4 separate regions of the Homo sapiens genome follow, and regions 2, 3 and 4 are each reported to be linked to region 1. Evidence: microRNA targets listed by miRTarBase, many of them from high-throughput screens and not tested one by one. Region 1 holds a microRNA gene; each other region holds the end of a gene's coding sequence. Distances are from middle to middle.
Evidence for each region. Region 1 holds the annotated microRNA hsa-miR-582-5p (UUACAGUUGUUCAACCAGUUACU, at 1,661-1,683, shown strand). A microRNA usually pairs through its seed, bases 2 to 8, with sites in the 3' UTR of a target mRNA and lowers its output. Matches are read on the target gene's strand: a 7mer-m8 pairs with bases 2 to 8, a 7mer-A1 pairs with bases 2 to 7 and ends in A, and an 8mer does both.

Region 1 (5,000 bases):
GGAAGGTGACAAGAAAAGTCCTGTTTGTGTGTAATTGACATGAAAAATGGTAGGCTTTTAACTCAAGGAGGCTCCAGACAACAGTTTGGTTATTAAGGAAGGGGAGGACCTAGGGGAACAATTGTTTCTGGCCTCTCTTCTTCTCAGGCCTGGAACAATCTTTCATTTACTATATTCTTGCCACAAGAGCACAGTCAATATTAAATTCCAAAAAAAGAAAAATCCCTCACAGAAACAGCTGTGTTCAATATACAGCCAGTTTACTCTGGCGAATTGCTAGACATGGAACAGTTTTCATTTCTTTTTGTGTTTATCCCTGATAGTTGTCTTGTAAAATCTGCCTTTTGTAAATAAGGGAAGGCTGGTTTTAAACAGCTTTGACTAATATTGGTAGTTGGAGTATTCAGTATTACAGAGTTTTAGAGAACTAAAATAAACCTGATGGAAACACACACATATTTCAAAGGAAACATTTTAAGGTGTTCTGGTTCCATTTTTTCCATTTTGTATGTAAGTTGGATTATGATACTTTTATGTCTACATTGTCTCTTAGTCAAAAATGTGAGAGACGCCATTCAAGTCTAGACTTGGACCCTACTGAATGCCTTGTTCATGGACACCACACAATCTCGATGTAAATGTTTATTGCTGATCTGTACAAAAAGGGGAAAAGTAGTTTTTTGAACAACAGAAAATACCAGTTAATCTCACTGGATTCAGGAATTATAGCAAAGCAATCCAATAAGTGGATTCTCTGAGAGTAGGAACTCAAGTGTGTTATCTCAGTTTTTATCCAGTTTCCAGCACAATGCTGGCACCATTTAAATTCTCAGTCAATGCTGGAGAATTGAAAAAGAATCCTCAAAATTTGGATGACAAAATGACAAAGGTGTCCCCTGATACAGAAATCTGTCCATGGCAGAAAGATTAGTGATTTGAGATATGGTGTCATCATTGTAGATGATGGTGTCCCATTAAGCATGTTTTCACTAATTACAATAAATGTTGAAAGAAGGAGTTTCACCTAGTATCCTTACTAATATCAGGGAATGGCCTGGGCTTTGGGGAGATGAGAGTCCTCTGCTTTCAGTTTAATAAAGTAGGATATTTGTGTTTTTGTTTATATTGTTAAATACGACGGGTTAGCTTGTCACCTACATAATATTGTGTGGCATAAATAAAGGTGAATTCCCAAATATGTGCTCCATAGTGTTGACAATGAGTAAATGTTCATTCTAATAATTGTAAGGGTTACCTCCCTCGCACTCCTTGAAATATCTTTTTATTCAAATTTTTCGAGCTGGAGGTCATGTGTTACATTTCCTGTTGTGTAACATGGCCTCCCTCTCTTTCTCTGTCTCACTTTCTCACTTTCTCCCTCTTTCTTTTACTCTCTCTGCCTCTACCTCTGACTCCTTCTCCTTCTTCCCAGCTTTGCATCAGAGCCATGTAACTGACATTTTCTTGGTTCCCTCAGGACCTGTCATAATAGCAGGCAAATATTAGATGATGATTCAATGTTTAATGAATTTTTCTTGAATGTATGTATGTTGCTTCAAGTCATTCATGCACACATTGAAGAGGACAGACAGAGCCCTGCTGAACACCACTAGCAAATCTCTCTCTAGTAGACCACAACAAGTCAATCTGTGCTCTTTGATTACAGTTGTTCAACCAGTTACTAATCTAACTAATTGTAACTGGTTGAACAACTGAACCCAAAGGGTGCAAAGTAGAAACATTTCATTGTGAAGTCGGCTGGGGACAAAGAAAACACCACCAGAACCCCCTTCAATATGCAAAGGGAAAATTCCTTCTCAAGTACAAGCTACATGGTGCCTTTTTGAATTATCATCAATTTGTAATGCTGTATCAATACATATGTATTATCTGTTCTTTTGGTAAGGGTTGTTTGAAGTATAAGGTACTTCCTCCATTAAGGTGATACTAACCACATGTTAATTATTGTCTGAAAGTCACCAAGGATATGAATAATAAAAAGTTTTAAAAATAAGACCTGTTTCTTTTATTGATAGTTGTACCTCAAGGCTGAAGTGAGGTTTGCAATGTAAGTTGTAAAATGTGATGTGAAATAGACAATTCTTTGTAGTTTATATAAGGCAATATATCCATGTGCAATTATGGTCAAAAACAGCAGACTTTTAAGTGATTATTCTAAAGTTATTTTTTTCCAAAATAACTTTATTACTCTTGATATCATACCATATTCACAAAACATTCTGGTAAAGCTATTGCTCAGTGTGTTGTCCCAGTGAGACTCAGGGAACATTTCTATGTGACGCTTTAGGATTGAAGACAGTTCCACGTTTTCTGAGTAATTCCAAACTGTGTAAGAGATTATGTTCCCTTTGCATATTGGCTGCTAAGAAGCTCACTTTTTCACTTATGATACTTGGATGCATTTTGGCTTTTTGGGTTTTTGTTTTTTGGTCTAATTTTTTTTTTTTTTTTTTTTTTTGAGACAGGGTCTCACTCTGTTGCCCAGGCTGGAGTGCAGTGGCACCATCATGGCTCACTGCAACCTTGACCTCTCCTGGCTCAGGTGATCCTCCCACCTCAGCCTCTCAAGTAGCTGGAATTACAGGCATGTGCCACAACACCCAGCTAATTTTTGTATTTTTTGTAGAGATGAGGTTTCGCCATGTTGCCCAGGCTGGTCACAAATTCCTGGACTCAAGCCATCTTCCTGCCTTGGCCTCCCAAAGTGCGGGCATTACAGGTATTAGAGGTAGGAGCTACTGCATCTGGCCATGGGAAACATTTTGAATGATAACTTTGTTTGTTTGTTGTCTGTTGAGCAGGCTGGAGTGCAGTTGCATGATCACGGCTCACTGAACTCTTTCCTTTAATTTTTTTATTCTCTCAGCACGATTATAATTTATTTTAAAAGTAGGGAATAATTGGCCAGGCGCAGTGGCTCACACCTGTAATCCCAGCACTTTGGGAGGCCGAGGCAGGCAGATCACAAGGTCAGGAGATCGAGACCATCCTGGCTAATATGGTGTGAAACCCCGTCTCTACTAAAAAATACAAAAAATTAGCCGGGTGTGGTGGTGGGCACCTGTAGTCCCAGCTGCTTGAGAGGCTGAGGCAGGAGAATGACGTGAACCTGGGAGGGGGAGCTTGCAGTGAGCCCAGATTGTGCCATTGCACTCCAGCCTGGGCGACAGAGTGAGACTTCATCTCAAAAAAAGAAAAGCAGGGAATAATTAGTAAGTGCCTAACTAATCAAAAATTGTTTCCAGGTGATGTTGCTGTTGATGTATGAAAACCTCTTTCACCTAGCTTCCCTCTTCATTCTTTTCTGTCATATTTCTATTGACCAGTGCTTTCTTGGCCCTTGGAAATGTGATTAACTTTTGCCATGACCTCTATGTTAGTGCCACACCTGACACCTTTATGCCACTCTCTGCCTCCAGAACTCTGTGTCCATCTTATATGTTTTTACCTTCTGCTGGGCCTCAGGTCTGGATGCAAAGCTGTAGAGGAATTGAGCTGTTTTTCACAAGGGATCCAAGAACACATAGCATGTGTGAACTGTACTAAAGCTTTGAGAAGTTGTGAAGAAGATTCACATCAACTATGCACCACACAGCCTTCTTGTCTTGCTGGTACCATCTCCTCACCTCTGTGTTGCTCCTCTTGGAGTCTTCACCTTCCACAACCAGCACTTCTATTCTCACTGTCTGAGTGTGACTTTCCATAATTGTGAAACTCCTTGGGCTTATCCCTCACACTCATTCTTGAATTCTAAGGAATGGCATTTTCTCCATTGTGCTTACATTTGCTTTTCAGTATTAATTGTTCTAGAGAAAAGCATTCATTCACTCACTCACTCATTCACTCATTTAACAAAACCTGTATGGGTATCTACAGTACTATGTTCTAGGTATACTGAAGACACTAACATAAATAATACAAATAATAACCTTTTCTCAGGGAATTTAGATTAAAGTAGTTCAAATTGGAGCAGGGGAAGCAAATATTTACGTAGATTATCAGGGAAAATGTGTAGTGAGTGCCGTGATTAGCACTATGCAGAAGATTTTATGGGAGTGGCAAAAAGCAGAACCTAACCTTTTCTGGGGTGAAAAGTGTGACCTAAACTGAGTCTTAAAGAATGAATGTAGGGTGGAGAGAGGAATAGGAAGAGCATTTCAGGGAGAGAGGAATAGCAGGAACAGAGACACTGATGCAAGGAATCCCATGGTATTTGTGATGAAGGGATGATTTAGTAGTTCAGTGACAAGACATGAGCCTGGAGATAAATAAGGTTTAGGTTCTGGGGACCTTGTGAGCCAGGTTAAGGACTTTGGGTTCATCCTCAAACCATGAAGCATTCCAAGCAATTATGTGACAAGATCAGATTCTAGGGGCTGAATGGAGAATAAATATGTAAGTGGCAAGATTGAAGGCTGGGAATGTAAAAGGTGGCTCCTGCTGTGGCTTGGGCAAAACATCACATAGGCTTGAGCTAGCTTTGTGATTCTACGGGATTGAGAGGAGAATGCTAATTTCATAAATGTTTAGTGGATATGATTGGCATGTGATCTGAATGCAACTGGAGAAGGGGACCAGTCATTTACTGAGTTGATATTGGTAATTGATAAATAAGACCAAAGAAGGTGAGGTTTGGGGATAGGCAGTGTAAATTTTGGAAGTAATAAGGGGATTGAGGTTCTGTCCATGGCATTGGTGGGGAAATCTAGCATGTAAATACATGTAAATAGATAAGTAAATATGCCTATACATTTATATAAGATATCTATACACTTATTCTCCTTCTTTGTTCATTTATTAGGTGTGAAATCTACGTGATTTTTTTCTCCCATATTATTTTTGGTATTCAATAAATGTGAATCATGAAGAGATAGCTGTTTTATTTAATCTCTGCAAAGTCACATTCTTACCCATTTTGATTGTAATAAAAGGCCTATGTCGTTATTTAATTTTTTAACCTTTGTGGCATGATTTATAGA
Region 2 (8,025 bases), not on the chromosome of region 1:
TTTGGACGAAATGGGCCTCCAGCCTCTGGTCTGCTGGTCACAGTGAATTGCTTGTATTTTAAGGTCTGTTTTGCAAGGCACATTTAGAAAGCAGCCAAATCTGTCTTTATTATTAGTGATCTAACCTTGTTTTATGCTAACTGCTTTCACCTTTTAGTTTGTTTATACTATTACTTTTTGCCAATGTGCAAGGAACATTAAACATGGAGTTTTATTTACACTCAGGTCATAGGGTTATTACTAAGAGACACCTCACATCAAGGCATTAAAAAAAAGAATACTTTGGGGCCGGGTGCAGCGGCTCACACCTGTAATCCCAGAACTTTGGGAGACTGAAGCGGGCAGATCACCTGAGGTCGGGAGTTCGAGATCAGCCTGGCTAACATGGTGAAACGCCGTCTCTACTAAATATACAGAATTAGCTGGGTGCGGTGGTGCATGCCTGTAATCCCAGCTACTCGGGAGGCTGAGGCAGGAGAATCGCTTGAACTCAGGAGGTGGAGGTTGCAGTGAGCCGGGATCATGTCACTGCACTCCAGCCTGGGCTACAGAGTGAGACTCCGTCCCCAAAAAACAAAAAAAAAACAACAAAAAATACTTTGGCTGTGAGCCGGGATTGTACCACTGCACTCCAGCCTGGGCGACAGAGTGAGACTCCGTCTCCCAAAAACAAAACAAAACAAAAAATACTTTGGCTGAGCACAATGGCTCACCTGAGGTCAGGAGTTCGAGACCAGCCTGGCCAACATGGTGAGACCCCGTCTGTAGTAAAACTACAAAAATTAGCCGGGCATGGTAGCAGGCACCTGTAATCCCAGCAACTTGGGAGGCTGAGGCAGGAGAATCCCTTGAACCCGGGAAGCAGAGGTTGCAGTGAGCTGAGATCGCAGCATTGCACTCCAGCCTGGACAACGGAGTAAAACTCCATCTTAAAAAAAAAAACAAAAAAAACAAAAAAACCACAACAAACTTTTACCCCAAATCTAAATGATAGAAATCTTTGTTCTTTTCTTTCTAGACATATGGAAAGTTGATCATGTGCTGGAGCGCTTGCAGAGTGAAAGCCTGGTGAACAGAAGGAAACCATGTCATGAACATGATGCATTTGAAAATATTGTTCATTGCAGCAAAAGTCAGTTTCTGTTAGGGCAAAATCATGATATATTTGACTTACGTGGAAAAAGTTTGAAATCCAATTTAACTTTAGTTAACCAGAGCAAAGGCTATGAAATAAAGAACTCTGTTGAGTTTACTGGAAATGGGGACTCCTTTCTTCATGCTAACCATGAACGACTTCATACTGCAATTAAATTCCCTGCAAGTCAAAAACTCATCAGCACTAAGTCCCAATTCATCAGTCCCAAGCATCAGAAAACACGAAAATTAGAGAAGCATCATGTGTGCAGTGAATGTGGGAAAGCCTTCATCAAGAAGTCTTGGCTAACTGATCACCAGGTAATGCATACAGGAGAGAAACCCCACAGATGTAGTCTATGTGAGAAAGCCTTCTCCAGAAAGTTCATGCTTACTGAACATCAGCGAACTCATACAGGAGAAAAACCTTATGAATGCCCTGAATGTGGCAAAGCCTTTCTCAAGAAATCACGGCTCAACATACATCAGAAAACACATACCGGAGAGAAACCCTATATATGCAGTGAATGTGGAAAAGGCTTCATCCAGAAAGGAAATCTCATTGTACACCAGCGAATTCATACAGGTGAGAAACCTTATATATGCAATGAATGTGGAAAAGGCTTCATTCAGAAGACGTGTCTCATAGCACATCAGAGATTTCACACAGGAAAGACGCCCTTTGTGTGCAGTGAATGTGGAAAATCCTGTTCTCAGAAATCAGGTCTCATTAAACATCAAAGAATTCACACAGGAGAGAAACCCTTTGAATGTAGTGAATGTGGGAAAGCCTTTAGCACAAAGCAAAAGCTCATTGTCCATCAAAGGACTCATACAGGAGAGAGACCCTATGGCTGTAACGAGTGTGGGAAAGCGTTTGCGTATATGTCGTGTCTGGTTAAGCATAAGAGAATACACACAAGGGAGAAACAAGAGGCAGCCAAGGTGGAAAATCCTCCTGCAGAGAGGCACAGCTCATTACACACCAGTGATGTCATGCAGGAGAAAAACTCTGCTAACGGGGCGACTACACAAGTGCCTTCTGTGGCCCCTCAGACATCATTAAACATCAGCGGCCTCCTCGCAAACAGGAACGTAGTCCTTGTGGGACAGCCAGTGGTCAGATGTGCAGCCTCAGGAGATAACAGAGGATTTGCACAGGACAGAAACCTTGTGAATGCAGTGAATGTGGTTGTGCCTTCCGTGATCAATTATGTCTTATTTTATGTTACAGAAAACCCATAGGAAGAAAACTCAGATCTATGTGGAAAAGGGTTGAGCAAAAATTTGTAGTTCATTATGTGGCCGAAAAGCATACACTGAGAGAACATGTATAAGGCTGAGATAGCCTGATAAACTCATCCTATTAAAATGTATGCTGTGATACACAGGCAAATTTGATGTTAACCTAAGCACATACACAGCAATTGCTCGACTGTGTCAATTAAATGAGTAAAGGAAGCCCAAGTACTTTTAAGTGGAGGAAATGAAGTACTGTGAATTTTTAAAACAGATGAGATAATTGGTGTCGGGAGTGTTGCAGTGACTGAAAAGCTTCATAAGGGGCAGTTGGTGGGAAAGGGCTAATACTGTAATGGTGGAATGTGGGACACATATGTGTCAATTCAGTTTCCTTAGACCAGTGCCAGTGTGGAGGATTAATTGAAAACCAGGACCATAAACTTTCAGAACTTTGTATTATGCAGAGGGATCTGTGAAACTAGTCAATTTGTTTCATTAAACAAATATTTTAAAATTATTTCCTTTGTACCTTGTCCTGTTCCAGGAGCTGAGGTCAAAGAAGAAAAAGTTTGTGGTCTCCTGGAGAGTTTGTGGGGTTAATTTTAAGTGGTATCATTACACTCAGGCAATCTAGTCAGGCGGTGCAAATATCTACATTAGGTGAAATGGACATGGAGTAACTGTGTCCAGGGGACGCGATAATTTATTGTTCAAGGAGTAGCAGAAGGACTGCTGTTAATGGTACTTAAGCACCTTAGTACAAAAAGGAGGGCTTTTTGTTTGTTTGTTTTTGCCCGTGTCTTATCTCTCCAAGAGATTACAAATTCCCTGCTAAGTTTTGTAGCTACTTAAATTTTAGAATTAAAGAAACTGAACACAAAATTTAAAAATTCAGTTCCCTCACTGCTCAAGAGCTGTATATGTGAGTAGAGGCTACTAAACTGGACAGCAGAGTGAACAGAACTTTCAGACAATGAGGACTCTTTGTCATTATTTCCAACATCCCAGAAAGTTATGCTGGAGAGGCTGCTTTGCATGATCTAATATTTCCCAACACATAGAAAAACAAAAACTAATTATGTATTGATTTGGAGAGAGAATGATTTGGAAAGAGAAGCGTATTTTGTCATTGAAGGGAATGACAGTTGTAAAGAATAGAATTGTCACTCACAACTTTTGTGTGATTAGAAAGACTTAGCCAAATATAAAAGGGGCAGAGCAGAAAAGGAAAAGGACTCTTAGAATAAGTAGAACACAAAGGAGGAGGAAAATCTTAGTCTCTGAGAATGGATGAGACTGTAACAGATGGGAGGAGGTGGGTTTCTTTTGGGACGTCTTAGAGATGACGCTTTTATTTGTCCATAAGACCTATCACCCGCTAGGGTTACCATTTCAGAGATCCCAGCTTCTCTGTGACCTGCTGAACTGAGATGTGATTTTTCTTTTCTTTTTTTTTTTTTTGAGACATGATTTATCTTCATCATTCTCACTTTTCTGGGAGTAGGTCTCTTGGCCTTCTTTATCTGGTTTTTTAACCTTCATCCCATATGGATACACTGTCCAAGTTACAGTAAGTGCTGCTCATAGGAAAATAAATGGAAATTTGCCTTGTGGCTAGGTCAGAATTCAACAGAAATCCTGGGTTACTAGGTAACCTTTTTTTTGAGATGGAGCCTTGCTCTGTCGCCCAGGATGGAATGCAGTGGCACGAACTCAGCTCACTGCAAACTTTGCCTCCCGGGATCAAGCGATTCTCCTGCCTTAGCCTCCCGAGTAGCTGGGATTACAGGTGCCTGCCACCACGCCCAGCTAATTTTTTGTATTTGTAGTAGAGATGGACTTTCACCATGTTTGCCAGGCTGGTCTCAAACTCCTGACCTCGTGATTCACCCACTTCGGCCTCCCAAATGCTGGGATTACAGGCATGAGCCACTGCGCCTGGCCACTAAGTAACTTTTATATATCATCACTGTGCAAGGCACTGTTTTAGATACAGTAGGATGGATCGGTGAACAATACAGGCAAAGGAATAACCTTTATAAACTTTACCATTGAGTGAGGCAGAGAAACAGATTGTACGATGTTAGGAAGGAGAAAAAGACTAGTAGTGGATACTAATGCATACGTAGTGATGGGGGCTTTTAAAAATATGTTATTTTTTTTCTCCAAGGGAAGGCTTTTCTGGATGTAATTTGAGCCAAGACCTAAGTGTACTGAGGAGAGCCTGTTACAGCATTTGTAAGCACAGAATACTCCAGGAGTATTTGTAATTGTCTGTGAGCTTCTTGCCGCAAGTCTCTCAGAAATTTAAAAAGATGCAAATCCCTGAGTCACCCCTAGACTTCCTAAACCAGATCCTCTGGGGCTGGAACCTGGCACTCTGCATTTGTAATGAGGGCTTTCTGGTGCACACCTAATTTTGTGCATCTTTGCCCTAAATCCTGGATTAGTGCCCCATCATTACCCCCACATTATAATGGGATAGATTCAGAGCAGATACTCTCCAGCAAAGAATCAGAAATGGGCGCTCCACCAACCAGGCCCTATCCACATCTGGCCTTTGTGAATCTGCACATCCTTCCATGGTAAGGTCAGGTTGCTTATGCTCTATCAGGGTCTAAGGATGAGTTGGCCAGGCCTACCCTGAGCAATTGCTTAACGTACCTTTCAGAGCTTGACCTCCCAGATGAAGGAGGCTCAGTGCATACCTAAGCTTGGTACACATCATGTCTGCTCCCAAACCCAAGATCCTTATAGTTTCACTGAAGATCACCCTTCATCTGCTCCCATGACCTCAGTCCCTCCTGGGCCAAGAGGCAGTCCTGCATAGTGATTTGGAATGTATCCTGAAGTCACACTGCTTAGTTTGAATCCTGCCCTGCCATGCCCAAGCCATGTGCCATAGAGCAACTAATTTACCAAGGTCTTGACTTTAGCTTTAAAATATCTGCCTCAGGTTTGTTGTGAGAAGTAAATGTAAAGTCCTTAAAACAGTGTCTAGCAAGAAACACAATTAATACAAGTAATGTTATTAGTCCCAGTGAGGGGAAGAGGAGGAATCAAGAGTATAGGTGTGCCTGAACTTAATCAAAACTGTGACTTGATGACAAAAAGGTTGCCACGCACTGAGCCAAGGATTCCTCATATAGCATACTTTTTAAGCTTAATAGAGCTGTGATTATGAAACTCTCTAGCTTTAAACTTTGAAACTTGCAATGACTGTTCTGCTTGGGGTCTGGACAATGGCAAACATCCTTAAAATGGCCATCAAGTCTGCATGTTCCGGTTCTTTCTTCCCTCTCCCATACTCCACCTTGCTCTCCCTGTTCTGACACACTGGCCCTCTTTTGGCCCCTCATATGCTGCTGACATCCTTTCATCACCTTCAGGCCTCTGTGCATGCTCTTTCTTCTGCCTGAACTTTTCTTTCCCCCCATTTTCTGCATTTTTCCTCCTTCAGGATCTTCAAACATCACTAATTCAGAGCAACTTTCCCTCACCAGTCTGGCCTTCCATAGGATCGTGTTCCTCTTCTTCCTAGCACTTAGGGGAACTGCAGTTTAACATTTTGTAGATTTCCATGTGCATTCCCCATCTGGATTCTAAACTTCCTGAAGGCAGAGAGTGTGGGGAAAAGAAAGAGAGATCAGACTGTTACTGTGTCTATGAAGAAAGTAGACATAAGGAACTCCATTTTGTTCTGTACTAAGAAATTCTTCTGCCTTGAGATGCTGTTAATCTGTAACCCTAGCCCCAACCTTGTGCTCACAGAAACATGTGCTGTGTTGACTCAAGGTTTAATGGATTTAGGGCTGTGCAGGATGTGCTTTGTTAAAATGTGTTTGCAGGCAGTATGCTTGGTAAAAGTCATCACCATTCCCCAGTCTCGAGTACCCAGGGACACAATGCACTGCGGAAGGCCACAGGGACCTCTGCCCTAGAAAGCCTGGGTATTGTCCAAGGTTTCTCCCCACTGAGACAGCCTGAGATATGGCCTCTTGGGAAGGGAAAGACTTGACCCTCCCCCAGCCCGACACCCATAAAGGGTTTGGGCCCTGGAGGATTAGTAAAACAGGAAGGCCTCTTTGCAGTTGAGATAAGAGGAAGCCATCTGTCTCCTGCTCGTCCTTGGGAATGGAATGTCTCAGTGTAAAACCCAATCGTAAATTTTGTTTACTGAGATAGGAGAAAACCGCCTTATGGCCGGAGGTGAGACATGCTGGGGGCAATACTGATCTTTACTGCACTGAGATGTTTGTGTAAAGTCAAACATAAATCTGGCCTATGTGCACAACAAGGCACACACAGCACCTTTCCTTAAACTTATTTATGACACAGAGTCCTTTGCTCACATGTTTTCCTGCTGACCCTCTCCCCACCATCACCCTATAGTCCTGCCATATCCCCCTCACCGAGATGGTAGAGATAGTGATCAATAAATACTGAGGGAACTCAGAGACCAGTGCTGGTGTGGGTCCTCTGTATGCTGAGCGCCGGTCCCCTGGGCCCACTGTTCTTTCTCTATACTTTGTCTCTGTGTCTTCTTTCTTTTCTCAGTCTCTCATCCCACCTGATGAGAAATATCCACAGGGGTGGAAGGGCTGGCCCCCTTCAAGAGAGCAGGTCTGTTTTTTCCTCATCATTTCACCTCCAACATTGGGCACTAGATCAGGCACCTCGCAGATGCTGAGACAGTATTTGGTTGAATTAAGGAGTGTTGCTCCAACAGCTTTCAAGCTACTTAGCTGCCAAGTGGCAGGCTGTAGATTCAAATGTTTTCTGGCATCTAAAACTTTTTTTTTTTTTTTTTGCTTGGAGGGTTTGTTTTATTTTATGATCTCATCCTTAGATTACCCTGTGATCAGCCTCCACTCCTAGGGCGATAGAGACTCTACTGGCTGTTTATTTTTACTCTGAAATAGTTTGACTAGGTCACATAGTCATGCGATTCAAAACTTAAAGCTGTACAAAAAAGCACATTTGTGAATATCTTATCCTGTTCTCAATCCTAGTTTTCCCCTGACCTTCTAGCTTTTACAGGTAAACATGTTTACTGTGAATCCGTCCAGTGTTTCTTTTTATAATACAAGTATATATTATTTATTTGTCCTTTTTTCAAAAGGTGGCATACAGCATACACTCTTTTGCATCTTTTCTATGTTTTGTTTGTGACGGAGTCTTGCTCTGTTGCCAGGCTGGAGTGCAGTGGTGCGATCTCAGCTCACTGCAACCTCCGCCTCCCAGGTTCAAGTGATTCTCCTGCCTCAGACTCCTGAGTAGCTGGGACTACAGGCACGTGCCACCACAGCCAACTATTTTGTATTTTTCATAGAGATGGGGTTTCACCATGTTGGCCAGGATGGTCTCTATCTCCTGACCTCGTGATACACCGCCTCGGCCTCCCAAAGTGCTGGGACTACAGGTGTGAGGCACCGCGCCCAGCTGCATCTTTTCTATGTTTAATTATCACTGAGCAGCAGCACAGCACCTTGAGGGTAAGTGAAGAAGGAAAGACTGTAGCCTGTCAGCCAAATATGGTTATTTGTTCAATAGTCTTATTATTGAAGTGCTGTGTTCCAGTTTTTGTTCTGAGCACTGGGGCTAAAAATAAATTATAGACTTCTGCCTTTGTGGAACTCACAGTCCATT
Region 3 (8,025 bases), not on the chromosome of region 1:
CTGCATTTGGGAAAATCTTTTTTTTTTTTTTTAAGTGTTCAAAATAGCTCCTGCTGATACAATGGATTGCAGCCTGGCACTCACTCCAGGACTATGACTAATTGATCTTTGTTACTATTCAATGACTGCAGCTAATCCCTATTGAGAAATTATGTCAAAAACCTTCCAGAAAGTTAATGTGCTTCCTTTTAAGGGAAATGGTTTTGAAATAGAAATATTTAAACTCTGCAACCAACTATTGAGAGAGGTTATAGGATTTTTCTTACTTAGTCTGCTTATTTAGTCTGGGTTAGAAGCCAGCTTCCTAAAGATAGAGGGATAAAGATCATGATACTTGATTTGATTCTACCATCCTAGAGAATTGGGATATTGTAGCAAAGAAGAAAATCAAGAGAACTTTGATATATTTATGGTTATTCAACAAATTTTATTTCAGGGACTTTATATCTTATTTCCAGAGAAAAGTGATTTGGCTTCTGAAGCAATAAGTCAATTTTAAATTCTCACATCACCCCATATTTAATACTGTTTTCATTCCCTAGTGATGACTGGTTCTCCAGCCTCTGCTGTTTTAGTCATCTGGGTTATCGGGGCAGTGACCTAACAAGGGGCTATTTCTGCTTATTGACTTTGGCAGGGGGCTGTGTTTAAAGTTAACATCTTATCTTTCCAGCTATTGATCAACAGTCTATTTTAGTGCTCTCTCCTTGTGTTGCAGGTTGGAGGAGGTGACGTTAAAGGATTTTAAAGCAGCTATTGATCGGGAAGGAAATCACCGGTATCACTTCAAAGCACTGGATCCTGAGTTTGGCACTGTCAAAGAGGAGGTAAAGAATCTGTGGGGAGTCTGTATGGTATTATTGGTCCTTTCTGAACCCTGAAGCCTCCTGTTCAAGCACTAGTGTCCAGAAGTACATGAGTTCCCTGACTAGGTCAGAAGAATTTGCCAGAGCCTCAGACCATGGTCTGATTACTCTAGACAAGTGGTCATAGAATAGTCCAAGATGCTGATAGGTTCTTTAGTTGTAGGACTTCATCATTTGACTGAGAACTTGGATATAATTTTTATTTTAAATTATTTTGTTAGGGAAAATAAAGAACCTAAGACAATAAATAATTTTCCATCTGCAGCCAAATCTTAGAAAACTTCTTGCTTCCTATGTAGAGCAAAATAAACACGCATGGATATATGGAACTGTGTATTTCTCATAATGAAATCAAGGAACTTCTAGGGAGTTATGTATGCTTATGCCCAACTCCTTGAGTAAGTATTTTCTTAGCCTACGCGTCTCTTTATAATCCATTTGTCAAAGATAGACTTTTGGGGGAATACAGTTCTGGGTTATATAGTATTACAAGTGGATTCACTGCAGTTACAGAATGAAAAAAGTTATTATAGAGAAAGTAAAATTTTATTTTGTAAACATTTCCTCAGTGAAATGTTTTAGTAACCCTGTTTTATTAGTGGCTTAGGAAATGAGTTGAATGAATTAATGAAAATAACTGCATCTGAGAAATGTGTTAAAATGAGTCTTTTTTCCCCACCCTTTCTTTACATTGCCTGGTAACTAAATTTTCCACTTTCTCATTTTTAAAATACTTAACACTACATCTTTCCTCTAAGAAGCCCAAAGTACTTTGTGATTGGTAATTTATTAATTCTTACAAATCTCTATGAGCAAAGTAGTATCAGGCATTTTTTAAAACCATTTCATAGATGTGGATCTAAGAAAAAAATAAAATATCAGTTGCAGTTCTAGGGACAAGACCAAAAGGACATAGACTCTTAACTCAAGGCTTTCTTCTACATGGTTGAGGTCTTATTTTTATTAGCAGCAATTGTTTAGTGAATCAGATTCCCTGTTTTTTCACTGTGGCTTTTTGTTTTTTTCTCTAGATTTTCCATGATGATGATGCCATCCCTGGATGGGAAGGGAAAATTGTAGCTTGGGTGGAAGAAGACCATGGAGAGAATTAATGCCAAGTATCAGATTGAGGGCTTATGGAACCTGGTCACTCCCTGGCTGCTTCACTCAGGAAAGGGAACTAAAACCAGAATACACTAAGAAGTTTCTAGTTTGTGTGCCAAAACAGAAGCTTCTCCAAGCATGATGGCCACAGGTCAGTCCTCTTTCTGTGCCTGGCATATCTGGTACTTAAAATTCTGTCCAAATGTAGACCATGGGTTCATCTGGAGTTCCTTGTCCGTGGGAACACAGTGTTCTATTCTACTCTGAGGACAACAAACCGAAGGCCTTAAACGATGGGGATGGATGATCCCGCCTCTGTAGGGGCATGGCTGCTATTATCTGGAAATTAGGAATTGGATGCATCATTCCTGTGTGTTACAGTATTATTTTAATTGGCCTCAATGGTTGCAGCAATCAGAGTCCCAGCGTTTGTACTCACAGACAAGGCAAAGGTACCAGCTTTTCTGTTTCTTTGAACCTACTGCAAACCAAGAATAACTCATGAGGTGGTACCAAAGATGAAAGCCCAGACTTCAGTAATCTTTTGAACCAGACGTGGATGGTGCTGAATTGTTGCTTGGATGGAAAAAGGGCTGCCCATGTTGTGCTACACTATGCTAAAACTGTAATTTAGTAAGACCTTGGGCTGCCTCTTCTGTCTTAACTGGTTCTGCAGCTTGTCCTTTTGCCCACATAGGGCCTATTTCATGTACTGTTAGTTTTCTCTGGGGACTCTTTAACTTTAGAGCCATTTCTTTTTCTTCAAACTGATGAACTTTTGTTTGAAAGGCATAAGGAGTGAAAAGCTCCTTGAAAATCCAGGCGGGTATGGAAAGGTGCTGCTACCCATATCTTTTTGACTTTCTTTGTTTCATGACTTTAACTCATGGCATCTCCTTTGTAGTAAAAGGAGACAGACCATTAATTTCAGCATTTCTTTGTGATTTATAAGTACTGAGCATGAAGTACTTGTCTGCCCCTCATTTCAAGGCCAGAGTTATTTTCTATTTATGTATTAGTCTAGGCTGATCTTTTAGGGCACAATAGAAACCATGGGGCGTGGAGCATGAGTTGTGAATGGCAGGGATCATTCTGGGTAAAAAAAACCTAGAATCATTTCTGATGTGCAACATTGTCAAGTGAAGAAGCTAACAGTTCAACTACCGAGATTATTTGATAACCTGGGTTTTCTCATTCATCCATCAAGCACCATCAACCAGTCAGCCATTATTATTTATATATGTATTACCAAAAGCAGTCTATCTGCCTGTGACCTCCAATGTACACTGCCAAACACAAGAGTAGGACACATCTGTTCTGGGTTCTTGACCTATCTGTCTCCAATTCATCTCCCCTTTTCAGCCATTTCAACAAACTACTCTTTGGAGCTCTGAGATGACATCTTGTTGTTTTATATAGATGTATCTTTTAAAAATAGTTCACGTTTGGAGAATTCTTTTGTACTCATTTGCTTTTTGTCTGAGAACCATGTCTATTTTTATAACTGGAGTGTGAGTTCTGTATCTTCTCACATTCTGTATACTGTATCCATTTTCTAGAGAACCCAGTAGCTTTTATACAGTCTCTTCTTACCACCCCTTGTGGTTTCAGAACAAGCTTTATTTTATTACGAGTATATTAATGACAACTAATTCCTGTTCCAATTCTACCTGTTTTAGTTGTGAAGGTAGTTTTGTGTAATCCAGTTGATTGCTCCTCTGGCAGAGAGAAGGAGCTCAAAAGATACTTGATGTCTTTCATGTAAGTTTACCTGGTCTTTTCCTATTGAAGAATTTTTCATCAGAAACGACTGGGAAAGTTTGGGAAAGTCAGCAAAAGAAAGAATGCATTTCGAAAGCAAACAGAAGAAAAAAGTATATTCTCACAGTTTTTCCCCAGGAAGTCTGGAGAAAAAGTCCTCATGTCACCAATTTCTCTGTTGCATGAATTTTAGTGTTTTGCTATAAGACAGCATGAGGGCTATCAGGCCAAAATTCATTATTGTATTTCCAATACAGTTTGTCTTGAATGTCTGTCTCTTAAACCAGTTTTTACTTGTCAGTTTTCTCTCAGCAAACAGTCTTACTATTATGTGGAATTTAACTTTTCAGAGAAAATTTCCAAAGTCCTCTACCTTATTTGGCTTTTATCTGTGTCTTTTGGAAAAGGAGCTGCATGGCCTCAGTGCCTCCATAAAAAGCTTAAGTTGAGTTCATGGGAGAACATTAAGATCGTTTTTTTTCCCTTTTAGCTCGGTAATCTCATGTACCACAGGTAATGACCAAGCATCTCTGCTAGAGGATGTAACTCTCATAACTCCTGTGTAAAATGAGGATCCTGTTGGTGATCCTCATTCCAGTTTCCAAAGCGAGAGGAGCCTTCTGAGCAGAAGTATGCAAGACTGATTCTGTTTGGAACAGTTTCCTATTTGGCTGCATTCTAGGAGGCCTCCTGACTTATTCATAGTATTGTCGCCTGGTGGCATTGGTGTGGGGTAGCTTGTCCTGCTACTTGCTAAAGTTCTCTTTCTTTGAGAAAACTGAGGAACCAGAATGCTTAGAGTTCATAAAATAATCTCTAAACCATGTTAGGTTAAAACAAAATGACCATCTCACAAAAACGAGTTTAGTTGAATGCTCAATTCCTTACAAAATCTTCATTTAAGGCTGAGTGTGGTGGCTCATGCCTGTAATTCCAGCACTTTGGGAGGCCGAGGCAGGAAGACTGCTTGAGCCCAGGAGTTCAAGACCAGCCTGGGCAACGTAGGAAGACTCCGTCTCTACATAGAAATTTTATTATAAAAGTAGCTGGGGATGGTGGCACACACCTGTAGTCCCAGCTACTCAGGAGGTTGAGGTGGGAAGATTGCTTGAGCCCAGGAGTTTGAGGTTGCAGTGAGCTGATCATGCCACTGCACTCTAGCCTAGGCTACAGAGCAGGACCCCATCTCCAAAAAAAAAAAAAAAAAAGTCATTTAAAAACTGAAGAATGTTCTCTTCTTGCTCAGTTCCCTAAATTAGCTGGGGGGATTGGGATACTTTACAATTTTTACATTTTTAAATTTGAAGAATTTGTTTTAAACTTACTTGGTAATGGCACTTCTACTTACTGACCAACTTTTCAGCTCTTTTTGACCAGGATGGTTGCAAATTAGGGAAAATATCTTTATACTATACATCCAATTCAAGAGGACTTTAATTACTTAAAAGCATTTAGGTCATAATTAAAATTATTTTCACTGTTTCCATAAAATAAGCATTATGATTGCACACTCCTTCTACTGTCTGAATTTATGTAAGAGGTATAGCTTGCTTAAAATACATATATATGTAAAGTTATATTTTCTTAGAAACATGGATGTTTACAGCCATTGCTTTCAAAGAGATTATTACTGTGTATTCTCCCTGTTTTACAATATGTTTTCATGAAGACTATGTTACACCAGAGGCTTCTGATTATCAAAGTGATAACCAGTTTTAACTGCCGGTATGTACCAGATTTGTGAACTAATTTAAAAAACCACAAACTATGAATAAAATGGGGTTTGCAAACTAAATATCATTAATGATTTTCACTTGCGTTTACTGATGAGATTAATCAATAAAGCCATTTACATTTAGTGAAAGCAAATTTCCTCAAGTGATCTCCCTGGTAGCATGTTTACTCACTATGTGGAGTGGAGATAAGAATTACTTTATTGCTACAGATATTTTACAATTAGTATTTCTATGTAAGCACATAGGCTATTATCAAGGACAATTTATTTAGCACTTATTTTGAAATTATATGTAAACATGCAAACAAATAAGAACCCAAGAGTATAAACTCTATGACAAAAGTCAGTATGCAAGCATTAAGAACTCTTTCAGAAATGTGTATTTAAAATGACCAGAATTCCCAGATCATTTGAAAGCTGCCTCTTAAATGCCTCTTATCAATTCATCTTAAATGTTTGCTATATTAAATTCTTTATCCCTGAGTGCCTTCATTTGACTTCCAATTACGTATTTTCAACTATTAATTGGCTATCCCATTATGTTAAAATTAAATATGTACATAACTCAAAATCTTTCACTACCAACTAATTTCTGTTTCTCTCAATATCAGTGATATCACCATTCTCTTAAGTATCTCTATTTCAAACCTTTGAGTCTTGAGTCTCCTTTTCCATAATTTCCTTTATCCAGTCTGTTTAGTGGAATTCAAGCTTGTTCTCTCAGGACTGATTTGAGAAACCTAAGCATTCCTAGCCCACCTCTGGGGTAAGCTCGCCATCTCTGGACTGTTTGAGCTATGCATTCCTATAATTTAACTACACTTAAGTCAAAAGTATATTCAAGACACAAACTCGCTATTCTTTGAAAAATGCAAAACAGGGTTTAAGCAAGCATACCTAAGTGCACAACAGATCCGGAAGATCACCTCATACTTTATACCAAAGTCTAATTTAGATCCAGTTATTAAGTTCAAATGCAGCAAAAGCAGCAAGATATTTTAGCCAACTCAAAAACATTTTTATAATAATTTATAAGTCCTGGGCGGGCATGGTGGCTCGCGCCTGTAATCTCAGCACTTTGGGAGGCCGAGGCAGGTGGATCACCTGAAGTCAGGAGTTTGAGACCAGCATGACTAACATGGTGAAACCCCGTATCTACTAAAAACACAAAATTAGCTGGGCATGGTGGCACGTGCCTGTAATCCCAGCACTCGGGAGGCTGAGGCAGGAGAATCGCTTGAACCTGGGAGGTGGAGGTTGCAGTGAGCCGGGATCATGCCACTGCACTCCAGCCTGGGCGACAGAGTGAGACTCCATCCCCAAATAATAGTAATAAGTCCTTTCAGTAATTACAATTATTCTTTCATTGCTTCTTCCAATTGTTAATTCATAAGTTGTACATAATTGTAACAATATAATTGCTCTCTTCATATTATTTAAAATATGCCTTTTCATTCAATCTAGAAATTTTATATTTCTCAATTATATTGCTTACATATTATTCTGATAGACAGCTGTACCTGCTTAAACATTCCAATTTAAGTAGGCATGAAATAGTACATCCAATCTGTTTTAGTTTTCCAAATTAATTGTTAGCAAGATTAGCCCCCATTTTTTTTTTTTTTTAACAGATGGGAGTCTCATTATGTTGCCCAGGCTGGTCTCAAACTCTTGGGCTCAAGTGATTCCCCCACCTCAGCCTCTCAAGCATTGCTGGGACTACAGGCATGCACCACCGCTCCTGGCTAAAATCTTGTTTTAAGTTTCTTCCCTCCAACTTCCTCTTGCGTTCTTGGTGTTCTCTAACCATCTCTACAGGGGGGAGGTGGTGATACACAGCACATGCTTCCTCCTTATCTAATGTCACCTTCAGTTCAGAAACGATATGTTTTCTAATTAAAAGACAACTTTACAAGAGAAGCGTGCCTAACAAAATGTGTAGATGACTTTTTATTCATTGATTCAAAAGACATACATTCAGCCCCCGCTATTTACTGGATATTAAGCTCTGGGGCTACATGGAAGGACCACGCAGACACTCTTCATGCCTTCAACGGCTTACAGTTAAGTTTTTCAAACATTTGAAACATAACGAAGCTTTTGGTTACTTAAAAGAATTCTATGGTATTAGGGAGCAACACCTGTTTTGTAAACCTATATCTTCATACAGGGAATATGCTTAATCTTGCTACAGTATACATGAATGCGGGAATGTATCTTCCTCTGGGCTGCCTTTCGTTACCACTTGGCTGGGTGGAACACCTGTTCACTCCACTTTCCACTTGGGCTACAAACCTGAAACGAAATCTTTGCAACCAGTACAGCCTGCGCGGGGCGCGGCCCAGTCCATCCCCCTTCGGATGCGCAGAAGCAGAGGTCACCACGCCGGACCCCTCGATTCCCTCGCGGGCGATTCCTGGCTCCTTCACCACCCCAGCACTCCAAGACCCCCGCCCTTTGGCCTGAGGCTCCCACTGCCCTAGCCAGTTCCCGGGCTCACTTCCAGCTTTTCCAGAAAGCTTGGCCACGCCCCTCGGCCCAGACTCTCAGGCCACTCGG
Region 4 (8,025 bases), 56 Mb from region 1:
ACATATATCTATTTGTATAAGTATATATTGTATTGGGATGAGTAATACTTAAATGTTCAGATATTTAAAGAATATTCTCTATTTCTATATCTCTATATACAGAGATTAAAGGTCTGAAAGATGTATGCAACAGTGGTGTTTACCTCCAGGAAGTATAGGCTGTGGGTATAGTATAGGCTGGGATGGGGAGAGAACTATCATTTTTCTTTAAATTATAAAACTAAATGACCATTTTAAAAAAAGGTTCAAAGTGAAATAAGCTATATATTTTTTAAAATTGTAAATATCTGAATAATTAAGCACCAGTAATCTCAATAGCACTTACTTAAAAGTTCATTTTCTCACTAACTTGAGATGCTGCCTTTACTGTATTCTAAATGCCACTGAGTCTATTTCTGGAATTCCTCTTCTGTTCCATTGGACTTCCTATTTATGTGCCAATACAAAACTTTTCATTTATTCAACATTACGAATGCCTTCCAATATCCATACTTTAACAGTTGCATAGTATTGAGTTACATAAATGTATCATAATGTGTCTTATTTTTCACAATTACAAAAATGTGGCTGTGAGATCCTTGAAAATGTATCATTGCCTATTTGCATGTTTCTTTATGCTAAATCTATAGATAGAGAGTATCTGGGCCAAAAAGTGTGCACACTTTAAAAAATTCTGATAGCTTCTGCCATGGAGGATTTAGAGTATGTTTTAGTGTCGGATATGGCTGGTCCCCTCTAATTCTTTTCAGTTTCCATGGTTATTCTAGTATGTTCTCTCAAATAACAATATAATTTTTATTGGAATGGCACTGAATTTATAAATGAACCTAAGTGGGGAAAGACATGTTTTGATGTTGTCTATCTAAGAATATCATGTATCTTTCCATTTGGTGGAATCTACATTTTTGCCTCTCAAGAGTTTTTTTAGTTTTCCTCATACAGATTTTAGATGTGTCTTAAATTTACACATTAAGTTTTCTTTTTACTTTTGCTATCACAAAGGTGGTCTTCTCTTCAAGTATCTTCTAACTAGTTTAGGTTTGCATATACATACATATATATATATATATATATATATATAGTCTTGTTACTCTTTTTAGTAAACATTTTTACTGAGCTATAATTATACATACAGAAAAGTGCACAAATCATATACAGCTTGATAAATATTCATAAGGTGAATGCACCTACGTAACCAGCACCTAGATCATGAAACAGAACATTACCAGCACCGCAGAGTCTCCCTTGTACCCTCTTTCAGTCCTACTGAGTTAAAGCCAGTTGAAAAATAATGTATACTATATGGTTCCACTCATATAAAATTCAAAAACAGACAAAACTAATTGATGGTAATTTTGACAGCACTTACCTTTGGGAAGAGAGGTAGTGACTGAAAGAGGGTGCTGATTTCTGACACCATACATAGATGCTGTCTGTTTTGAACTTCACCGAAATGGAATCAAAGTATGCACTTGTGTCTGGTGAAGCCTACTGATATTTTTATGTAAATTGTATTTAATAGCTACTTTACTAAGTTCTTTTATTGTTTAGTTTTTCAACAAGTTCCTTTGGGCTTTCTAGATACATATTCATATCTGCAAATAGTTTTACCTCTTCCTTTCCAATTCACGTCTTTATTTTGTCTAACTTCATTGGCTATAACTCTCAACACATTGTTAAGTAGCAGAGGAGTTAGTGGGCATGTCTTGTTCCTGACTTCAGCTGGAAAGTCTCCTTTGCTTTGAAATTTAAGATGCTGGCTTTTAGGTAGAGGTACAATGTTAATAGATTATTCATCAATTTCTACTTAGTATAGTTAACATAAGTGAGTGCTCAATTCTATCATGTCTTTTCTGCAAAGATGAAGATATTTTTTAACTCTTAATATGAATAGTAACAGATTATCTAGTATTGAACTACCCTTGCATTCTTACAATAAACCCAACTTAGTCATGATTACCTTTTGAAAGTGCTGTTGGATTGTTTGCTAATGTTATCATTAAAACTTTTTATTAATATTCATGAGATTGCTCTATATTTTCTTTTTGGTACCATCTTTGTCAGGTTTTTGAATCAATGCTATTACATTCATTTTATAAAATGAATTCAGGAGTTTTTCTTTATTTGTTTTTTTTCTTTTTTTGGCACTTTGAGGTTCAAGATTCTTTTCCTAGTCTCTGCAATTGTTTAAGCAAGAATGGGATTATTTAATCTTAAAAGGTTTGGTAGAAATCCCCTTGAAACAATCTGGGCTTGATGCTTCTTTTGGTAAGGGGTACTTTTAACTATTTGTTTCTTCTACGGTAATTGGTTTGTTGTGACTTTATCTACCTAGAGTAAATTTTGGCAATTTGCATTTTTCTCAAAATAGTTTTTGAATTTATTGTGTAAAATTGCTCAAAATAGTCAATTTAAACAAATTTCCTGTTTTACTATTTCCCCCTTGTCATTTAAATTTTTGTATTTGTGCTTCCTCCTTTTTTTCTTAAATAGGTTAGCTGGTAGTTTATCTGACTCAACTCCCCGCACTACCCATCACCAACTTGGATTTATTATTGCCTCTATTGTTTTGGTTTTCTACTAGTAATTCTTTTTTGCTTTTATTAATTCCTTCCTTCTGCTTTATTTTGCTTTTTACTCCAAGTGTTTGGTACTTGGTTAATTTTCCCCTTTTCCTACTTTTATTGATAACTGTACTAATTAATATAAATTTCCTGTCATATTTGCATTTTATTTTTTGGCAAATATTAGGTTTTTATCTGTCTTGTGGTCATGTCCTTCCGGTGTGCTTTCATTGTCTGTGAGGATGTTGATCTATTTATTCTCTTATTTCTTATACTAACTTTGACTGGAGTTGGACTGTAATCCTGGCTCACTTACTCTTTTTTTCCCCTTAACTGAAATGAGTTTTTCTGTACTTTTAGGAGGAAGGAGTGGCTCTAGGATGACTTCACAGCCTTAGAGCTCCCATTTTCACAGTGATTTAAAAGAATATATATATATATGAAAATACACATATATAATGTCTCTGTGTCTTGGCCTTTCTTCCCAATACTTATCTAGATCTTCTTTCCTTTGTCCTATTTTACCCATCCTGCCCATTTGGATTCTAATTCTAGAAGTTTGTCCTCAGTGCTGGGCTTTGTCTCATAAGCTTCAAGAGGTACACAGCGTAAAACCCAGACAGCTCTAATGCAATCAGCAGACCTTATCATATTGCTTTAACATTCATCTGCAAATGAGATTCTGTAGTCACTTCCCAGTTTCAGTGTCTGTTCTTAGATTGGCCCGCTGCACTTTGTAGTTGAGAAACTGTGGGCAGTGTTGTAGTTCTCCAATTTGCAGAGCTGTCAGAAACCAGCTGCCTTCCTTCTACTTCCTCCCACAGATACTGAAACTATGTGGTTCAGTGGTTTGTCCTCACTTAGTTGTATTTTGAAGTTCATAGAGATACCTTGTCATCTAGCGTTGTAATAGTGTCTGTGGCTATCCTAGTTGCTCTGTATTCTTATGGGGAGATTAGAAAACAACACTGTTGTCATCATTTTCCCTGAGGTTAAACTGTTAAGACCTCTTTCTGTTGTAGAAGAGAGGTTTTAATTACAAAAATAATTTTATGATCATTATAAAGAACCTATAATTTGAAATTTGCTGTATTCCAGGTACTATCCTAAGTGCTTTATCTGTATTATCTCATTTAATCCTAAACCCTGTGTGTTAGGTTTTACCCTTATTTTATCCACGGCAGAGTTAGGGTCCAAGATCATGCTGCTGAACTGGCAAATCTGGGATTTAAACCCAGGTCATCTGATTCCAGAGCACCTCCTCATTAACTGTCTCTCAAAAATGATCAGGTCCAACAGTTTTCAAATTATATACCACTGTCAGCAAGATTTCTATATGAATTTAGATTAAATATAAATAACTAAAGATCTAATAACACATATATATTATAGATCAAATCTAAAAACACTGAAATGATAAACAGGTTAAATTAGGCCATATGATCTGATTAATCTCATTTGTACACAGATGCTCAAAATAAAGCTCCTCCTCCTACCTTCTAAAAAAAAAATGCCACAAAATTAGGGGGCGGGAAGGAGACAAGTATAGAGTAGGTAACAGAGCTTTTTGAGATTTCGGACTTCGTATTTTCCCTCATTACATCGCTCCTGTTAAGGAATAAAGTGTATATGTGAAATATTGCTTATAATTTATTTAATCGATAAATGCTTTTCTTGTAAATAACTATTTAGAAAAGTTAGAAATAGTTTCTCCACAATTCACACTGGGCTGCTATTTTCTGGTCAATTCAGTTGCTGTGGAATGTGAACATTTACTAGTCCATAAAGTTTCACAAGAAAGTCTCCCACAAGTGTATCAATTAGAAGCATACTAAAATTTATAATCTTATGGTATTAAATTATCAGGAGTTAGAAAATATTTAGCCTTATGAAATACTTTTAGATTGGAATTTTTCTCTAACATTTATGAATAAAATCACTGTTACTACCTTTATTGCCTTCTAACCTTTCTTGGTGATACAGAAAAAACAATTTGGGCTTTTTATATAGTCCTAAAGCCATTATATATATGCTACTTTAACTTCCAATGTCTAAGAGATGACTTAGTTTGAGATATGGATGTCTTAATCTGCCAGGATTTAAATAGTAGCAACTGGAATAACCCATAGACGGATAACATCTGTTATTAAGCTTACTTTTTCCCCCACCATCAGAAGATTTATTTTATTTCTAATTAAAAAACATACAGTTGGCAAACTCAGGTTTAAAACTAAGCATGCCAATAATAAATCAATCATTTCTCCAAGTACACAGTGTTTCCCTTGGGAAGGACTGTTATTTCACAACATTTTTTTCCCTCTGATTTAGAAAAAAAGATAACATTTAAAGTATTACAATGCCTAAACAGTGATACCAGTAATCCAGTTTTTATACTGATACTTGTATTTCAACATTTATTATCACCAAGACTAACTTAAAGCCAACTCCTTTAGTGAAGAGATTTCTTTCCCCATTTCAGTACTAGACGCAATAGTTCTGAATGTCACTGAGCAAGTAACGGATATGAGTTATTGATAAATTAATTACTAATGAAGAGTTTTTATACTACCTCCTTTATAATTAGCTAGTTCATAGACTTAAAACAAAACAATGAACAAAAACAAAACCCTATTTCTTACCCTCTAAATGGTCGCATTTCCCTTTCACTTACCTGAAAATATGAGAATAAAAATGACCATGTATTGAGTTACACCACTGAATCTGTTTGAATGGTTCTGTTTTTGTATTTTTTACTTATTTAATTTGAAAAAAATTAGAAAAGTATTAGTTTGAAATTAGAGCAGCTAACACACTGGGGGCAATAAATTAAAAACTTCAAATGGCTAAAAATGAAAACACAAAGTATCTTTCCTTCTAGATAAAAAAGATTGTTTTCTTCCTAGAAAGCAAAAAAAAAAAAAAAAAAAAAAAGGCAACTAATGATTTGAGAATAAAATCAAACATAACTGGTATTCACCACAGCAATGTCTAGATAAATGACCCACATAGCACAAAACTTTCTCATTCACAATCACATACAGTTAAGTTGCTTTTCCCTCAGTTACATAATAGTTGTCTTCAAACAATCTCCTTTTAGAAAACTATCACATTAGTTAAACCTATTTATTCTTACTATGAAGTTATTAACTTCATTTATATAGGCCACACAGGTTTAATTGGCACACTTTACTTAAGAATAAGACAAAATAAGTCACTCTTCTTTAAAAAAAATTATGGTCATCTGTTTTCAAAGAATAATCCCAGATACTTAATTAATTAAAGCAAATTTTCTACGATCAGCAGTGAGCTTTTTAAATGATCACTAAGTGTTCACCTGAAGATTATCAATGCTATATGAAGTGTAAACTTGAAAATTTGTGTCCATTTTATAATAAGATACAATTTGCACTGAAGAGTTTTTAAAAAGATAACCTACACACATACAGTTAATTTGCCTCAAACAACTTCTTAGAAATACAGTATAAACATTTAAGAACCACGACAAAGTTGTGGTTCAAACTTCAACAAAGATTTTCTTGAAACCCAGTATAAAGATTACTGGCTCAAGACCATATCCCAAAGTGAAATCAGCAGGAGATTTGATTGTAAGACTCTACCTTTTAAAAAAAGAGCACACTTGGTTATACATGGCTTTTAAACTTGAGCTACAGTTATGCTACAAATCCCCCCACCCTCCCAATCTAAAATCAGTCATGTGGAGATATGTACATTCTCTGAGCATTGTTTAGAGTCCTTGGTTTTCCAGCTTTGATGGAGATCTAGAAGGCGTTCAGAAGTCCGTGTGCTTACATTCAGAGCAGGATGAACTTTACAAATTCCACTTTCCTCCATTAGTGACAGGCCACAGATCCCAAAGTATGCATGCAAAGCATCTGAAAAGAAGGCATTTAAAACATCATAATAGGCATTCTTACTTGTACATTCTACAGAATATTTTAGCCACATATTTACCAGCCCATCACTCCATTAAAAGTAAGTTTAGAGAAATGCTAATATAGTTTTAAAAATATTTGCTTTCTCAAAGCCTCAAACACCAATTAAAAAAAAAACTCAGATGATCAAAATAAAATATTTTATTCATGAAAATATCATTAACAAAGGAAAACAGTTTCCAGCTGAAGAGCTGATACTGTCCATAACCTCTGTGATTAAAAGACAGGAGTAGCAGCAGTCATATGTAAGACTTCTCACTTTGGGGAGTTTCCCCTCTTGCTTACTAGAGAACATGAAAACGAGTAGCTTCAATGCTATATCATTAAGTTTTTTTTTCTTTAAAACGAAAACAAAACTCTGAATCTAAGTTGCAATATCCCTCGCTCCACGTTTTACCTCTGAAAGTTCCTAAACCATATGCAGTACTATCCTAACATTGTGTTAAATAAAAGGAGCTTATGCAAAAATAATCCATTCTGGAATGCTGTGCCATATTTAATCCTCCTATTTAGGGTAATGTCAGTCATTGTAAAAATATCTGATCTGACAATAAAAACAAACTCACATTCTATTTGGTTGAAATAATATGAGTGCTCATACCATGACAATTCTGCACTGGCTCACTAGTTTCCCATCTTTCAGGGGGCAGCGATCCTCTTCTATTAAAGTGGCCAATGAAATCACATGGCCATTCCTGCCTAGGAGTCTTATGTAGACTTCTGAAGAGCTCAGAGCTTTGCAGTTATAGGAACATTAAAAAGACAGTTTTGTACCAGTCAAAATTTTTTTCTATTTTTGAATTGGCCGACATTTATGGCCTTAAGAGCTATTAAAGTTCAAAACAGGCTGGGTGTGGTGGCTCACACCTGTAATCCCAGCACTTTGGGAGGCCGAGAAGGGCATATTCCTTGAGCCACAGGAGTTCGATACCAGCCTGGGCAATACGGTGAAGCTCCATCTCTACAAAAAATACAAAAATTACCAGGTATGGTGGCGTGCGCCTGTAGTTCCGGCTACTCGGGAGGCTGAGGTGGGAGGCTCACCTGAGCCTAGGGAGGTTGAGGCTGCAGTGAGGCATGATTATATCACTGCACTCTAGCCTGGGCAAAATAATGAAACCCTGTCTCAAAACAACAACAACAAAAAGTTCAACACATCTTACCACATCAAACTTTGTCAAAAGAGTTAAAGAAAAAGCTTTACTTACAACAGTATCACTTATTTTTCAAAACAGAAATGACAAATAGCTGTGCTTACTCAATGCCATTGTGAAAATGTTATTTAACTAATGGAGGCCCATGTTGATCACCTTTTAGGCCTTTTCAGAAAATACTTAGGTTTCTTCTGGCTCACTTTCCTTTGACTTTCAGACTATAAAAAATAAACTTGATTTCACCTGTCATATTACATCCATATAGTTATTCTAAAACTACAAAGGGTACAAAGCAACATTAAGCTTTGTTTTCTAGAAACTAGGAAACTTTTCTAGGAAAAAGTACAACAGAAA

Region 2: miRTarBase lists ZNF350 as a target of hsa-miR-582-5p. Seed matches in the 3' UTR shown: 7mer-A1 at 2,723-2,729.
Region 3: the mRNA of DIXDC1 is a reported target of hsa-miR-582-5p. Seed matches in the 3' UTR shown: 8mer at 2,592-2,599.
Region 4: miRTarBase lists PGGT1B as a target of hsa-miR-582-5p. Seed matches in the 3' UTR shown: 7mer-m8 at 6,231-6,237, 7mer-m8 at 6,006-6,012, 7mer-m8 at 5,601-5,607 and 7mer-m8 at 4,769-4,775.

What each region holds. Positions count from the first base shown.
Region 1 is chr5:59,700,349-59,705,348 of GRCh38, reverse strand. MIR582 (microRNA 582) reads left to right here and starts at 1,646; the gene lies at 1,646-1,743. All of the region lies in intron 1 of PDE4D (phosphodiesterase 4D), which reads left to right.
Region 2 is chr19:51,959,208-51,967,232 of GRCh38, reverse strand. ZNF350 (zinc finger protein 350) reads left to right here. Exons shown (of 5, transcript NM_021632.4): 5 at 1,019-2,893. The coding sequence ends at 2,379. All of the region lies in intron 1 of ZNF350-AS1 (ZNF350 antisense RNA 1), which reads right to left. Among named protein-coding and RNA genes, the nearest start is that of ZNF350-AS1, 14 kb to the right of the region's middle.
Region 3 is chr11:112,017,059-112,025,083 of GRCh38, forward strand. DIXDC1 (DIX domain containing 1) reads left to right here. Exons shown (of 20, transcript NM_001037954.4): 19 at 719-827; 20 at 1,898-5,595. The coding sequence ends at 1,978. Among named protein-coding and RNA genes, the nearest start is that of DLAT, 4.3 kb to the right of the region's middle. RefSeq lists an enhancer at 7,312-7,501.
Region 4 is chr5:115,206,127-115,214,151 of GRCh38, forward strand. PGGT1B (protein geranylgeranyltransferase type I subunit beta) reads right to left here. Exons shown (of 9, transcript NM_005023.4): 9 at 1-6,457. The coding sequence ends at 6,276. Among named protein-coding and RNA genes, the nearest start is that of TRIM36, 40 kb to the left of the region's middle. RefSeq lists a silencer at 3,133-3,242.